Linked DNA regions of Homo sapiens: region 1 is linked to region 2. A link means that fine-mapping ties the variant in region 2 to the expression of a gene that starts in the linked region. Tissue or cell type: whole blood. Region 2 holds a variant in brackets; the other region holds the start of a gene. All regions are shown on one strand. Distances are from middle to middle.

Evidence for each region. PIP is the estimated chance that this variant, and not a neighbour inherited with it, causes the effect.
Region 1: it holds the start of RAPGEFL1, and the variant in region 2 is fine-mapped to the expression of RAPGEFL1 in whole blood (INTERVAL, PIP above 0.99).

The regions. Positions count from the first base shown.
Region 1 is chr17:40,174,368-40,182,467 of GRCh38, forward strand. It overlaps RAPGEFL1 (Rap guanine nucleotide exchange factor like 1), which reads left to right and starts at 3,103. Exons shown (of 15, transcript NM_016339.6): 1 at 3,103-4,014; 2 at 7,249-7,327. The coding sequence starts at 3,495. RefSeq lists enhancers at 1,982-2,482, 2,483-2,983, 3,375-4,231, 4,232-5,086 and a silencer at 3,015-3,144.
Region 2 is chr17:40,213,763-40,221,862 of GRCh38, forward strand. It overlaps WIPF2 (WAS/WASL interacting protein family member 2), which reads left to right and starts at 5,542. Exons shown (of 8, transcript NM_133264.5): 1 at 5,542-5,730. RefSeq lists enhancers at 4,883-4,932, 5,373-5,482, 5,383-6,161. The variant T/G (reference allele first, on the strand shown) is at 4,593.

The DNA.
Region 1 (8,100 bases), 39 kb before region 2:
ATTTTTAGTAGAGATGGGGTTTCACCATGTTGGCCAGGCTGGTCTCAAATTCCTGGCCTCAGGTGATTGGCTCAGCTTGGCCTCCCAAAGTTCTGGGATTACAGGCGTGAGCCACCACGCTGGGCCCCTAATTCCTCTTTAAATCATGTCAGTTTGCTTCTCTTCCCCACAATGTGATGGGTGACTGTAGGCCTGATCTCCTGGGGTTATGAAAAAATGCCATCCAGCCTTGGGGGTGGGTTACTGGCAGGAGGTTTGAGTGTTGGATGCTTCCCCTTTACCCTTGCCTCTTGCTTCCCTAGTCCTTCAGTTAGACCCTATTGCTCTCTCTGTTGCCCTGGTAACCAGCTCTGCAAGAAGAAACTCAAGCTCAGCAAAGCCCCCAGGTTCTCTCTATCCTCCCAGCCTGCCTCTGGGTGGGCAGAAAGAAGAGGGTGTGTAAGCAGCAGACAGATAGCCTGAGGTGGCCCTGCCCAGTCCCCTTGTAGAAGCCCATGGGCTCAAAAAAAGCTCAAAGCTTTTTCGCCCCCATCTCATAGTTGTTATTCATACCACCCTGCCTTCCTCTTTATTTCTTCCATAAGCGGGTGCAAATGCTCTGCCAGCTCTCTTCCCCTTCAGGGTCAGCGCACAGACCTGCTACCTTGTAGGCAACTCGGAGCACCAAAGACTTGGAATTCCAAAGTCAGCTCCCAGCATCTGCAGCCCACTTGGGTTGACTGTCCGTCTAGGGCAGTGATTTTCAATCCTGGCCATTTGTGTCATGTGAGGAGCTTTTTAAAAAATACCATAAGCCTTCGCCCTGGTTCAGAAATCTGATTTAATTGGTCTGAGATATGGCCTAGGCATCAGTTTTTTTTTTGTTTGTTTGTTTTTTTTTTTTTTGAGACAGTCTTGCTCTTGTTGCCCAGGCTGGAGTGCAGTGGCATGATCTCGGCTCACTGCAGCCTCCACCTCCCGGGTTCAAGCGATTCTCCTGCCTCAGCCTCCTGAGTAGCTGAGATTACAGGCACCAGCCACCATGCCCAGCAAATGTTTGTATTTTTAGTAGAGACAGGGTTTCACTATGTTGGCCAGACTGGTCTCGAACTTCTGACCTCATGTTGCACCCTTCTCGGCCTCCCAAAGTACCGGGATTATAGGCGTGAGCTGTTGCACTTGGCCAGTATTTTTTTTTTTTTTTTAATATGGAGTCTCTCACCCAGGCTGGAGTGCAGTGGCATGATAACAGCTCACTGCAACCTTCACCTCCCAGGTTCAAGCAATCCTTCTACCTCAGCCTCCAAAGTAGCTTGGATTACAGGTGTGTGCCACCATGCCCGGCTAATTTTTTTTGTATTTTTAGAAGTGGGGTTTCACCATGTTGGTCAGGCTGGTCTTGAACTCATGACCTCAAGTGATCTGCCCGCCTTGGCTTCCCAAAGTGTTGAGATTACAGGCGTGAGCCACCAAGCCCAGCCAGCATCAGTATTTCTGAGAAGCTTCCCTGTGATTCCAGTGTGTAGTCAGGGTGAAAACCACTGCCACTCCAGGAGGACCATGACTTGATGCTGGCTCTCCTCACTGATTCAAAATGTTGAACTTAGTCTCTGCCTGACATCCTTGAGCATTTGGGGGAGTACTGGGGTCCTGTGTCCCAAGCTTCTAGCTTCCAGAAGTCTCTCAGTCTGTTTTATTTTCAACCCCCTACACCCTTCACACTCCCCAATTCGCCCTTCCTAACCAACAATTCCCAAATCCTGCCCAGAGAGAAGGTTACCAAGGCAACCGGCTTAATCTGGTAACTGTGGCATGTGCTGGGAGAGAAGCCCTTCCCTCTTCCTATTCAGTTCATAAAATGCTACCTGGGGAGCTCCAACCCATTCCAGCCACTTTCCCCTTTCAAGCCAGGGGATATTGGAGTGTCCAATAAGGGGAGCACAGGAAGCTGATACTCAGACCTCTAATACAGCTTCTTAGCCAAAATTGTGCGCTGTCTTCTTTTTACTGTTTCCAAATCCACAAACAGATGGGTGTGCAAAGCTTTATTTCTGTGAACACATGCTCTAGCACACATGGGAACAGATATGCACATACATTGATACGTATGTCATACACACCCTGTTCAGTTTTACTACCACTCCCAGCCATTAGCATTCCTGTCTCTGCCTGGTTGGTGCTCGGTAAACAGGGGTGGGGCATTGTCCAGAGAGCCTCAACCCATCGAGAACCTGCTGCCACTCCCACACCTTGTAAGTCTAACCTGGATGTTCTCACACTTAGCATGGCTTTACGATGCACCCCCCTCCTCCCCCACACTCCTTCTGGGGCAGCATATCCTTAAGGACAGAATGCTCCTGGTGTGGGCATCAGGAGTAAGGATTACTTGGAGTGCTAATTGGCACCACTTTTCCCACTCCATGGCCATGTACACTTGGGCTCTGTGCTTGATGATAGTCGGCAGTTCTGGGGCTTGTCACCTGTCTCCATGGCCCTGCTTCCTTCTGCTGCCAGCTGGGCTCAGGTGCCCTTGTGCTCCTGGTCTCCTCCCCACTGCCTATTATCCCCTCCTCACCCCAGCTAGACCTGCCACAACCTGCTGCTCCCTGCCTGGCTCCTACCTGCCTGCCAGTACCTGCCCACAGACCAGGCCCACACCACCTATTGTGCCCTACCAGAGAGGACAGATGGGCACCGCCTCCAGTGGCAATGCTAATTCACCCAAGAGGCCTTCCCAGCTCTTCTCACAGAAGGAAGATAAACTCCACATATTTCTGTGAGTATGAGAAAGGTGCACACTCTTGGGTTCAGCAATCTGTAGGCCTGACTTGGGTACACAGGTAGGTGAGTGAAGGTGTCCAGGCCACAGACCTGTCCTGACTCTTTGAAATGATGCTGAGACCCGGTTATCCCTTGAGCCAGGAATCCTTCCCCATTGGTAAATCTCTGACTTACCTTTGCCCTTAATTTCTTCTGCTTAGAACCCAAGTCCCTTACTGTTTCCCTCGCGGTCAACCCCAGCGCGCGAGTTCAAGCCTCGTGCGGCGCGGGGGCGAGCCGAGGAAGGGTAGGGGCGGGGACTGGGCGGGGACTGGAGGAGGGGGCGCGGTCTCGGTTCTGCCACCTTCCCCCTCTTCACGGCCAGGAGCGCAGCCGCCGCCGCCGCCGCCGCCGCGTCCTCTCAGCCTTGCGCTCCGCCCGCTGCCTCTGCCGCCGCAGCGCAGAGCCGGGCGCACCGGCCCCGCAGCCTGCCCACTCTTCGGGCCGCGTGCCGGCTGCAGCCGGCATGGGGGGTTGCTGAGAGCGAGCACTCCTTTCCTCTGGCACCTCCCCCGGCTACTGGCCACTGGACTCTGGCCAGCGAGGCTCGGCCCCTCTGGCCCCCAGTCTGGCGCCTGGCACGGCCCTCTACTCTGCTCCTCCAGCTCTGAGCATCGTGTCTTCGCCGCCCCCCCCGCCCGCGCCTGGGATACCTGGGTCCCCCGGCGACCCCTAGGAGAGGGGCGGGGGGGGGCATGAAGCCGCTGGAGAAATTTCTGAAGAAGCAGACGTCGCAGCTGGCGGGCCGAACGGTGGCGGGAGGTCCCGGCGGGGGTCTGGGGAGCTGCGGTGGGCCTGGAGGGGGTGGGGGACCCGGCGGGGGCGGCGGTCCAGCCGGGGGACAGCGGTCGTTGCAGCGGCGTCAGAGCGTGTCTCGCCTGCTGCTCCCCGCTTTCCTCCGGGAGCCCCCCGCCGAGCCGGGGCTGGAGCCGCCCCCTGAGGAGGAAGGAGGAGAGCCGGCGGGGGTCGCGGAGGAGCCGGGCAGCGGGGGGCCCTGCTGGCTGCAGCTGGAGGAGGTGCCGGGGCCCGGGCCTCTCGGGGGAGGGGGGCCCCTGCGCTCCCCTTCCTCCTACTCATCTGACGAGCTGTCCCCAGGCGAGCCCTTGACTTCGCCGCCCTGGGCCCCTCTGGGCGCCCCCGAGCGGCCCGAGCATCTTCTGAACCGGGTTCTGGAGCGGCTTGCTGGAGGGGCTACCAGGGACAGCGCCGCCTCAGGTAAGGAGCCGGTGGGCTCGAACACCCAGAGCAGGGGCTGGCCCCGGCTCCTCTTCCTTGCCCTTGGAGCGTAGGGGTGGCGCCGTGCCGGGGCTTGGTTATAGGGTTGAGTGGTCCGCGGAAGCCGGCTAGGGGCCTAGCGGAGGTACAGACCCTCCCGCGGAAGAGGAGAGCAGTACTCACCTTCCTCCCTACAGCAGCCTCACCCTCGTCTGGAGAAGCAGCTGAGCCTCTTACTCTCCTTCAGCCACCCTTCCTTTCCCCTGGGCATTGGAGCCACTGACTCCCATGGGTCCCTGATGTTGAATACCTCCTCCTGTGGCCCCAAATTAGGGCCTGACACATTAAAATGGGAGCTGCCCAGCGCAGCCATGCCACCCGCCAGAGGTGCTTTAGCCCTGAAAACCCTGGGGTCCCTGACTGTTCAGAGGCCTACACAGCGCAGGCTGACCCACCCAGGGAGGCAGTGCCAGACAGGCACAGGCCCCAAGCTGCCTTTTAGGCATCAGCAAAGGGATGCGTTGTCCTTAGCAGTTTGGTGGGGGGGATAGTATTCTCCTTGGGCTGGACTCAGAAGGTGTCTGGGAGGGGAGAGGTGGCTGGGCCGGCATCATGGCCCTGCAGCATCCAGGGTGTCCAAGCGCCTCCAGCTTCCACCCTTCGGTGGCAGGCCTCAGCACCCGGCTTTTTTTTTTTTTTCTTTTGGAGATGTAGTCTCACTGTCACCCAGGCTGGAGTGCAGTGGCGCCATCTCAGCTCACTGCAACCTCCACCGCCCAGGTTCAAGCGATTCTCCTGCCTCAGCCTCCTGAGTAGCTGGGACTACAGGCATGTGGCACCACGCCTGGCTAATTTTTGTATTTTTAGTAGAGACAGGGGTTTCACCGTGTTAGCCAGGATGGTCTCGAACTCCTGACCTCGTGATCCACCTGCCTTGGCCTCCCAAAGTGCTGGGATTACAGGCGTGAGCCACTGGCCTGGCTAATTTTTGTAGTTTTAGTAGAGACGGGGTTTCGGGGTTTCACCAACTTGGTCAGGCTGGTCTTGAACTCCTGACCTCGTTATCTACCTCCCCCCACCCCCACCCCACGGCCTCCCAAAGTGCTGGGATTACAGGCGTGAGCCACCGGACCTGGCACACGGCCTCTTTAAAATATAATCACCACACCCTGAGAAGCTTATTCCCTAAATGATGATACTATTTCACCACTCCCTTTCAGCACCCCTACTAAGGGGCCTTTGAGGAAACCAAGGCCCCAAATCTGGTTAGTTCTGAGGTAGAAGACCGAGGGTTCTTTAGGTCTAGCTCTAGGCATTACTCTAAGCCCAGGAGGGTCTGAGGTTTGGGAGCCCCGGCTGAGGCCCTAATGGTGAGGGCTTTCACACTTGCTCTCAGCCCTCGGCAGGGAACCCCAACCTAGATGTGTGGAGGGGGGCTCCACTCTCCTAGATCCTTCTCAAGACCTGGGTCCTCTCCTTTGGAGCAGGCTGTAGTTGCCCTGGGGAGCTGACACCTTTTGGATTTAATTAGAAAAATATCAGACACACACAGCTCTCCTAACCATAACTTCCCGCCTACACCACACACCCTGTGTCTCTATGACACATTCCCTAGGGAGGCTGTACATTGGCCCAGAGCCTGCTTTGGAAAAGACAGATGCCCAACTGTGGCCCCCATATCAGCATCTCCCCAACTCTGCCCCATCTTACTCTTCCTTTGCTCCAGCTTAGGAATCCTGTGAGATAAAGTCTATGAAGGATGTCAGGCCTCTCGTTTCCTCACCCTCATCCCTGAAGCTGGGGGTCAGAGCTGGAGGCTCTCTGACTCATTGTAAGAACACAGCAGGGTAGCTGGGCAGGGAGGAAAAGGGAGAAGCTGTCTTTCCCCTTTTACAGGGGCCTGGTGCCACACGCTCCGCTCATTCTCCCCTGGGGTAAGACTCCTGAAATGTCACCCATGTTATCTGGCAGCCTGGATCCCCAGAGTAACTAGTTTGGGAAATTCCAAACCAGTCCCAGGTGAATGAGAATCAGCTTAACCTGCCACTCTGATGTTCTCCAATAAAACCAATGTTCTCAAGTCATCCTGGTCTCCTCCCAGGGTGTGTGGGAGGAGAGAACTTACAGAAGTTACTCTGAACCTACCAAAGCCTCTCCAACGTCCAAGCAGCCCCCTCTGACCGCTAGGTTTTACCCTAACACTCTGCTTGCCTCAGGCATATTGAGAAAAGGACAAAGACTCAGGATTCTGGGTTCTTATTCCAGCTCCAGGCAAGTCCCTCCCAGCTCTGGGCCTCAGTTTCACATTTGCGAAATGAAATCCTTGAAGTCAATTACTTTGTGTTGGTTTTCCTCCTCCGCCTGCATGGCTAGAACTGACCACAGGAGATAGTGAACCAAGGGGAGTCAGAAGCCTTGGTTTTGTCCTGGGACAGTGCCTGGGGACCTGGCCCTAACCAGTCCTGGTGAGGACACCTGGCTCCCTCCCTGCACCTTGTCTGTCTGTGTGTGCCAGGTGGCCCTGCCCCACCCCAGGGCTGGCTGCAAGTCAGGGCGACCTTGTACCCGGCTGACTGGCTGAGCCAGGCCCAGACGGGGGTGTGGAGGGGAAAGGGGTGGTGAGAGGAGCCGCTCCCCTTCACCATTCCATCATTAACCCTTCTGTCTCTGGGCCCCTAAAGGACACAGGATTTCTATTTAAAGGTTCTGGGATCAAAGTGATGGCAGTCTCTCCATCTCCCTTTTAATCAGGCTGGTTCCCACCTGCCTAGTTAGAACTCAAAGCTGTTAGGTGGGAAATGGGGAGGGGAAGAGGGATACACACACATGCACACACACAGTCCCCACTGATGCTAACCTCTGTGTTTGGAAATACTCTTTGTCTGGAGACACTTCTGTGGGCTACTTCTTTTTTCAGGCAGAACTCAACCTTGGTGTGTTATCTGACCAACTTCCCACATACGCTGAAGAGAAGTGCACATGGCCATCAAAGGCACGCGCCCCCCCCTTCCCTTCAGCTGCCTTGGCAGCTGCCGAACCCACCCTCGCAGTGGCTGCCCAGAACCTTTACACATGTATGTGTGCGCGTGTGCAGAGCATGACAAGGCAGGTGGCTGGGGCTCCAGCCTGGCTAAAGAGAACTTGCCCTTAGGGGCAAGAGAGGGAGGCACTGCATTTCCAGTTTCGTTCTGGAAGTGCCCACCTGACATCTGTGGTGCCCACTGATCTTTACAGATATCCTGCTGGATGACATTGTCCTTACCCATTCTCTCTTCCTCCCGACGGAGAAATTTCTGCAGGAGCTACACCAGTAATATCCTTTTGTGGAGTTTGGAAAAGGAGAGGTCAGAAGGGAGCCACTCCCTCCGTCCCACATGCAATCTCAGAGCCTAAACTCTCCCCTAGGAAACATACCTGGGGCCGAGTGCAGTGGCTCACACCTGTAATCCCAGCACTTTGGGAGGCTGAGGCAGGCGGATCACCTGAGGTCAGGAGATCAAGACCAGCCAGGCTAACATAGTGAAACACCATCTCTACTAAAAATAGAAAAAATTAGCCAGGCATGGTGCCACGCACCTGTAATCTCAGCTACTTGGGAGGCTGAGGCAGGAGAATCACTTGAACCCGGGAGGCAAAGGTTGCAGTGAGCCGAGATCGCGTCACTACACTCCAGCCTGAGTGACAGAGTGAGACTCCATCTCAAAAAAAAAAGAAAAGAAAACATACCTGGGTTTCAGTCCCAGCTTTTCTACTCATCAGCTGTGTGACTTGTACAGATTACCTAACCTCATGGGGACTCAGTTTCCTTTTCTGTAAAATGGAGGTAAATAGCACCTGCCCTGCCTATCTATTAGCTGCTATGAAGATCAGTCTGATAGCAGATGTGGGAGTGCTTTGGAGGCTGCAGAGCCCTGTACAAATGAAAGGTGTTATTTATTTATTTATTTTGAGATGGAGTCTTGCTCTGTCACCCAGGCTGGAGTACAGTGGTGCGACCTTGGCTCACTGCAGCCTCTGCCTCCTGGGTTCAAGCGATTCTCCTGCCTCAGCCTCCCCCATAGCTGGGGACTACAGGCGCACACCACC
Region 2 (8,100 bases):
CAAAAAACAAAAAACAAAAAAAAACCACACACACAGGCTCAGCGGGGTGCGGTGGCTCACGCCTGTAATCCCAGCACTTTGGGAGTCCGAGGAGGGTGGATCACAAGGTCAGGAGTTCCAGACCAGCCTGGCCAACATAGTGAAACCCCTTCTCTACTAAAAAATACAAAAATTAGCCAGGTGTGGTGGAGCACGCCTGTAATTCCAGGTACTCAGGAGGCTGATGCAGGAGAATTGCTTGAACCCAGGAGGTGGAGTTTGCAGTGAGCTGAAATCATGCCACTGCTCTCCAGCCTGGGCGACAGGGCAAGATGTGTCTCGAAAAAAAAAAAAGGGGTTGGGCGCAGTAGCACATTCCTCTAATTCCAGCACTTTGGGAGGCCAAGGCTGGCGGATCACCTGAGGTCAGGAGTTCAAGACCAGCCTGACCAACATGGATAAACCCCGTCTCTACTAAAAATACAAAATTAGCTGGGCATGGTGGCACATGCCTGTAATCCCAGCTACTAGGGAGGCTGAGGCAGCAGAATAGTTTGAACCCAGGAGGTGGAGGTTGCGGTGAGCCGAGATCTCGCCATTGCACTCTAGCCTGGGCAACAAGAGTGAAACTCTGTCTCAAAAAAAAAAAAAAAAAATGCCGGGCGCAGTGGCTCACGCCTGTAATCCCAGCACTTTGGGAGGCCGAGGCGGGCGGATCACGAGGTCAGGAGATTGAGACCATCCTGGCTAACATGGTGAAACCCCGTCTCTACCAAAAATACAAAAAAAAAAAATTAGCCAGGTGTGGTGGTGGGCTCCTGTAGTCCCAGCTACTCAGGAGGCTGAGGCAGGAGAATGGTGTGAGCCTGGGAGGTGGAACTTGCAGTGAGCCGAGATCTCGCCACTGCACTCCAGCCTGGGCGAGAGAGCGAGACTCCATCTCAAAACAAACAAACAAACAAACAAAAAAACAAAGGGCCAGGTGTGGTGGCTTACACCTGTAATCCCAGCACTTTGGGAGGCCAAGGCAGGTGGATCACTTGAGGTCAGGAATTCAAGACCAGCCTGGCAAATATGATGAAACCTCATTTCTACTAAAAATACAAAAACTAGCCGGGCGTGCTGGCATGTGCCTGCAATCCCAGCTACTCGGGAGGCTGAAGCAGAAGAATTGCTTGAACCCGGGAGGCAGAGGTTGCAGTGAGCCGAGATCGCGCCATTGCACTTCAGCCTGGGCAACACAGCAAGACTGTCTGAAACAAACAAACAAAAAACACAGACTCTGGAGATACTTTTACTTTCGCTACTTATAGATATGTGACTTTGAGCAAGATGATTAACCTTGCTGTGTCTGTTTCTTCATCTGTAAAATGGGCTTAAAAATATCTGCCTCAGAAAGTTATTGAGAGGATTAAATGAGCTATGTGAGGTTTTGACAGTGCCTGGCACATGGTAAGTGTTACTAAATGTCAAACTTATGATGACTTCTGTAACCTAATTTCTTGCCTCCCCCAGAAGTTCTAACTCTATATCAATATATTTTCTGAACCAGGTGAGGTGGCTCACACCTGTAATCCCAGCACTTTGGGAGGCCGAAGTAGGAGGATCACTTGAGGCCAGGAGTTCCACACCACCTGGGCAACAAAGGGAGATGCTGTGTCTGTGAAAAGAAAAAAATTGGCCGGGCACCGTGGCTCACGCCTGTAATTCTAGCACTTTGGGAGGCCTAGGCAGGTGGATCACGAGGTCAGGAGATCGAGACCATCCTGGCTAACACGGTGAAACCTCATCTCTACTGAAAATACAAAAAATTAGCTGGGCGTGGTGGCGGGCGCTTGTAGTCCCAGCTACTTGGGAGGCTGAGGCAGGAGAATGGCATGAACCCTGGAGGCGGAGCTTGCAGTGAGCCGAGATTGCACCACTGCACTCCAGCCTGGGGGACAGAGCGAGATTCCTTCTCAAAAAAAAAAGAAAGAAAGAAAAAGAAAAAAAATGTAAAAATTAGCTGCATGTGGTCACCAGTGCCTGCAGTCCCAAATAGGAGGCTGAGGCAGAAGGACCACTTGAGCCCAGAAGTTCAAGACTACAGGCCAGGTGTGGTGGCTCACGCCCATAATCCCAGCACTTTGGGAGACCAAGGTGGATGGATTATCTGAGATCAGGAGTTTGAGACCAGCCTGGCCAACTTGGTGAAACCCCATCTCTACTAAAAACACAAAAATTAGGGCCAGGCGCAGTGGCTCACAACTCTAATCCCAGCACTTTGGAAGGCCAAGGCAGGTGGATCACCTGAGGTCTGGAGTTTGAGACCAACCTTGCCTACATGGTGAAACCCCATCTCTACTAAAAATACAAAAAATTAGCCGGGCGTGTTGGCAGGCGCCTGTAATCCCAGCTACTCGGGAGGCTGAGGCAGGAGAATCGCTTGAACCCGGGAGGCGAGCTGAGATTGCGCCATTGCACTCCAGCCTGGGCAACAAGAGAGAAACTCTGTCTCAAAAAAAAAAAAATACAAAAATTAGACAGGCATGGTGGCTGGTGCCTGTAGTCCCAGCTACTCGGGAGGCTGAGGCAGGAGAATCGCTTGAAGCCAGGAGATGGAGGTTGCATTGAGCTGAGATCACACCACTGCACTCCAGCCTGAGCAATAGAGTGAGACTCATTTTCAAAAAATAGAAAAAATAAAAAGACTGCAGGCCAGGCGCAGTGGCTCATACCTGTAATCCCAGCACTTCAGGAGGCCGAGGCGGGCGGATCATGAGGTCAGGAGATCGAGCCCATCCTGGGTAACATGGTGAAACCTCGTCTTTACTAAAACTACAAAAAAAAAAAAAAAATTAGCCAGGCATGGTGGCAGGTGCCTGTAGTCCCAGCTACTCGGGAGGCTGAGGCAGGAGAATGGTGTGAACCCAGGAGGCGGAGCTTGCAGTGAGCCGAGATTGCGCCACTGCACTCTAGCCTGTGCGTCAGAGCGAGACTCTGTCTCCAAAAAAAAAAAAAAAAAAGACTGCAGTGAGCCATTACTGTGCCACTGCACTGCAGCATGTCTTTAAAAGACCCTGTCTCTTAAAAAAAAAAAAAAGTGCGTTCAGTTATTGGAATGTGCCATGATTCTTCTTGCTTTGCCCAAACTCTCCCTACAATGCTTTTCCTTCACTTCTTCCCTGGTCAATTCCTACCTGTCCCTCAAGTCTCACTTAGAATATGGGTATGGCCTCACTTAGTTACTTTCTTTTTTCTTCCTTTAGACAGGGTTTCACTCTATTGCTCGGGCTGGAGTGCAGTGGCCAATCATGGCTCAGCCCAGCCTTGATCTCCTGGGCTTAAGTGATCCTCCCATATCAGCCTCCCAAGTAGCTGGAACCACAGGCTCACACCACCGTGTCCAGCTAATTTTTTTTTTTTTTTTTGAGACAGAGTCTCACTCTCGTTGCCCAGGCTAGAGTGCAATGGAGTGATCTCAGCTCACCGCTACCTCCGCCTCCTGGGTTCAAGCGATTCTCCTGCCTCAGCATCCCAAGTAGCTGGGATTACAGGCATGTGCCAACACACCTGGCTAATTTTGTATTTGTAGTAGAGACGGGGTTTCACCATGTTGGTCAGGTTGGTCTCGAACTCCCCACCTCAGGTGATCTGCCCGCCTTGGCCTCCCAAAGTGCTGGGATTACGGGCGTGAGCCACCGTGCCCGGTTATATCCGGGTAATTTTTGTAGTAACAAGATTTCACCATGTTTCCCAGGCTGGTCTTGAACTTCTGGGCTCAAGCGATCCCCCCTGTCAGCCTCCCAAAGTGCTGGGATTACAGGCATGAGCCACTGCACTTGGGCCATTTACCTTTTTCATGAAGCCTATATCACTATTTCCCCAAGTCTGGGTGAGATGTCCCTATATTCATCCCAGCGGCTGCCCTTATCACAGAGTGTGTGATAGAGCATGGGGCTTTACATTAGCTACAGTGGGCAGTGAATGCCCTCTGAGGACGAAGCATTTGCAGTAAGGCTTGAAAAATGAGGAAGAGGCGGAGGATAGCCAGTACACAGTCCCTGAGGTGGGAACTGCTGAATGGGGTACATTGCAGTGATAGAAATCAGGTCCTCATAATGTAGAGTGAGTGAGGAGGGGACAGGCAGGGGATGAGGTTGAAGAGTTGGGAGGCTCTGGTAAGGTGTTTGGACCCACCATCTCCCTGGCTCCATCGCCCCACGTATGGCCATGCAGGATGTAGACAGCTGAAAATCTTTACCTCGTGTCCTTGATCCCTATGCCTGCTGTGTTCCCTGCCTTCTCTGATTAATAATAAAATTCCATTCATCCTTCAAGGCCCAGCTCCAAACCATTTAGGAAACCTCCTTCCATTCTTTAGCAGGAATTAATTGCTCCCTTGTCTGACGTCCCACAGCACTAATCACACGCTGACTTGTATCTCAGCTAGCTGTTTATGCCAGTCTGCCCACCAACGTAGTGAGTTCCCTGAGGGCAGAGGCTCTGTCTTAGTCACCTCTGTAGCCATCTCCTGGTGTTTAGCAGGTACTCAATGTGACATTTACTTGACTAGTGGGTGGTGCCTAGTACTACTCATGGCAGAATAGAAGGAAAACAAAAATAATAACAAC[T/G]TATGCTCTATCACGTTTTCCCATTCATTAACTGATTTCAGCTTTGCAACAACTCTATGAGACAGACGGGACAGGCACTATTAGACCCATTTTACAGATAGGGTAGCTAAGGCCCAATGGCACACAGCTTGTAAGTAATGGGGACTAAGTCCCAATCTTGCCCCCTTACTTCGGATTCTGTGCTGGGAATGGAATTAAACCAAGAGTATTTTGAAGCTATAATGGAAAGCGCTTTTCTGGGTGGACTAGGGAGAGATACTTAGTCAGCTGTCAGGGTTTAACAGCAGCTCCATCAAAGAGGGCACAGGATTTCTCTCTCTGGCCCAAGCAGCTGGAGGGGTCCACAGCACCATCCTATAGCCCTGGAAGCTGGAGGAAACCCCAGCCCGAGAAAGAAGAGACGGTGTTCGAGTCAGGTGGGTAAGATGACGTAAATGATGACTTGTGAGCAGTGGCCTGCCTCTGTTGCCATGACAACCGGAGCTTGACTACTTGGCCTTTGCAAGGTTGGCCGAGGCGGGTTCTTCGTTAACTCGAGATTAAGGAAGGATATTTAGGGGGGAGGGTGTGTGTGTGTGCGGCGGATTAAAGACGAAAGGAGTATATTCAACAATGACTGTTTAGCTCAGTGGTTCTCCACCTTGGCAACACGTTAGAATCACCTGCAACAATTTCCTGATGCCTAGGCTGCACCCCAGAATTAAATTATAATTTCCAGGGGTGGGAACCAGGCATCATAGTATTTAAATCTTGCCAGGTGATTCCAATTGCAGCTAAAGTTGCAAACCCAGCTTTTAGCTGGTAAGCGGAATTCCTGTGACCTTCCTAAGATGGCGTCCACTCAACCGCTTCCGCCTTTACGTGGGCCGGCAGGGGGCGGGCTTCCCAGGGGCGCATGCGTCTCGCATCTCTCCGCTCCCTGCTCTCTCCTCCTTTTTCCCCCGCCTCCATTTTGTTCGCGGACGCTGGGGACGGTGGGAGCAGATCCATTTCCGGGTTGGCAAAAGGGGCGGTGGCGGCGGCGGCGGCGGCGGCGGCGGCGGCGACGGCGAGAAAGAGCTTGCCGGGGGGCGAGCAGGACAGGACGAAGCCGGAGTGTAGGCGGCAGAGGATTCGCTCCCAGAGCAGCTGCGGCCAGGTCGGAAAGAGGCCGGGGCGGCTGGGTCAGTCGCTGAAATGACCTGCGGACCTGAGTGGGAGGGAAAGTCGCGGGGAGGGGGGCTCGGGGCGGGGCTTGAGAAGAGAGGGGGGCATTAGAGGAGGGGCCGGAGGGGGAGAGGGGTCTTGCGGGTGGGGCCTGAGGGGCGGGGGGCCGGGGGACTGTATCGGAAGAACCTGGAGGAGAGAGGGCGTGGGGAATCTGGGGAGGAGTGGTCGAATATTGGTATGGGGCGAGCGGGGACTGGAAAAATGGGGAGGAACGTTTTTGAGAGACAGGCAATAAGGGCTCCTGAAGGGTTGGGTGAGTTAAGGCGGCAACTCTGTGAGGAACGAGGTAATCGTGCGCAAAAAGGGAGACGGGAACGGAGGACCTGTTGGGAACGGCTAATTAGCAGGATGCTGTGGGTGAGGAGTCCAGTGTGACATTTTGGGGATTGAGTTAGGTGAAAGCTAGTGTTTGGGAAGATGGCTCGGGAAACTGCTTACACTAGAGGGAATCTTGAGAGCGTTCTTTGAAAAGGAATCAGAATTTAGTTAAAGGTTGGATTGAGAATGTTAAGATGCGCATTGGAACGTCTGGAGTTGAGGGTTCATGTTGAAGTGGTGTGAAGTGAGGGAAGATGGAATTTTTTTTTTTTTGTTTTAAAGGTGGGGTCTGGCTATGTTGCTCAGACTAGTCTTGAACTCCTGGGCTCAAGCGATCTTCCCACCTTGGACTCCCAGAGTGCTGGGATTACAGGTGTGAGCCACTGCACCCGGCCAAGATGGAAATGTTAAAGTGTTCAGCATGGCAGTGTGTATGGTCGAGTTTTTTATCAGGAAGGAAAGTTCTTAAAAATAGCATTGAGGCAAGGAACTGATATGTGATGGAATTCTTTTTTCTTTTTTTTTCTTTTAAGAGACGTGGTCTCACTCTGTCGCCCGGGCTGGAGTGCAGTGGCATGATCATGGCTCCTTAAAGCCTCGACCTCCCGGGCTGAAGTGGTCCTTCCACCTAAGCCCCGCCAATAGCTGGGACCACAGGTGTGACCACTACTCCCGCCTAACGTGTGTGTGTGTATATATATATATATATATATATATATATATATATATATATATATGTATATATATATATTTTTTTGTTGTTGTTGTTGGAGACAGAGTCTTGCCCTGTTGTCCAGGCTAGTCTGGAATTCCTGGGCTCAAGTGATCCTCCTGTCTCGGCCTCCGCAAGTGCTGGGATTACAGGGATGAGCCACTGTGCCTGGCCCAGAATTCGTTTTTTTTTTTTTTTTGAGATGGAGTCTCGCTCAGTGGCCTAGGCTGGAGTGTAGCGGTGCGATCTCGGCTCACTGCAAGCTCCGCCTCCCGGGTTCACGCCCATTCTTCTGCCTCAGCCTCCCGAGTAGCTGGGACTATAGGTGCCCACCACCACACCTGGCTAATTTTTTTTTGAATTTTTAGTAGAGACGGGGTTTCACTGTGTTAGCCAGGATGGATGGTCTGGATCTCCTGACCTCGTGATCCGCCCGCCTCTGCCTCCCAGAGTTCTGGGATTAGAGGCGTGAGCCCCTGCGCCTGTCCAGAATTCATATTTTTTAAAGGACTTGAATAATCTGTTATTGCTTTGGGCTCTCCCAGGGTCCCCGTCCTTTTTCATGCTGTTATTTTTGCCTTACGGTTTTGGTTTTTGACTGTCTTACTGAATGTTTTTGGCTATTCTGTTCTCCTTTTACAAATCAGAAGAGAACCACAGGGAATAAGGACAGTTTTAGCCTACCTATGGATTTAGTAAATAACTTCAAGGCAAATTATTAAGCTCTCATTTTTTTCCCCTTTGAAATATAGGTTTTCTCTGTCCCTGCCTCTAAAAGTTTGTCTTAACACATGGGATCTTTAAAGTGGTTGCATAGAAGTGATCTCTGAAAATGAGATTGAGATATTGATATTTAAAAGACATACAATGGTGCACCTGCCTGTAATCCCAGCTACTTGGGAGGCTGAGGCAGGAGGATTGCTTGAGTCTAAGAGTTCGAGACCATTCTGGGCAACGTAGCAATACCCCATCTCTCTCTCTGTCTCTTTTTTTGTTTGTTTGTTTAAGACGGAGTCTCGCTCTTTCACCCAGGCTGGAGTGCAGTGGCGTGATCTCGGCTCACTGCAACCTCTGCCTGCCGGATTCAAGCGCTTCTCCTGCCTCAGTCCCCCAAGTAACTGGTACTATAGGCATGCACCACCACGCCCAGCTAATTTTTTGTATTTTAGTAGAGATGGGGTTTCACCATGTTGGTCAGGCTGGTCTCGAACTCCTGACTTCAGGTGATCCACCCACCTCGGCCTCCCAAAGTGTTGAGATTACAGGCAT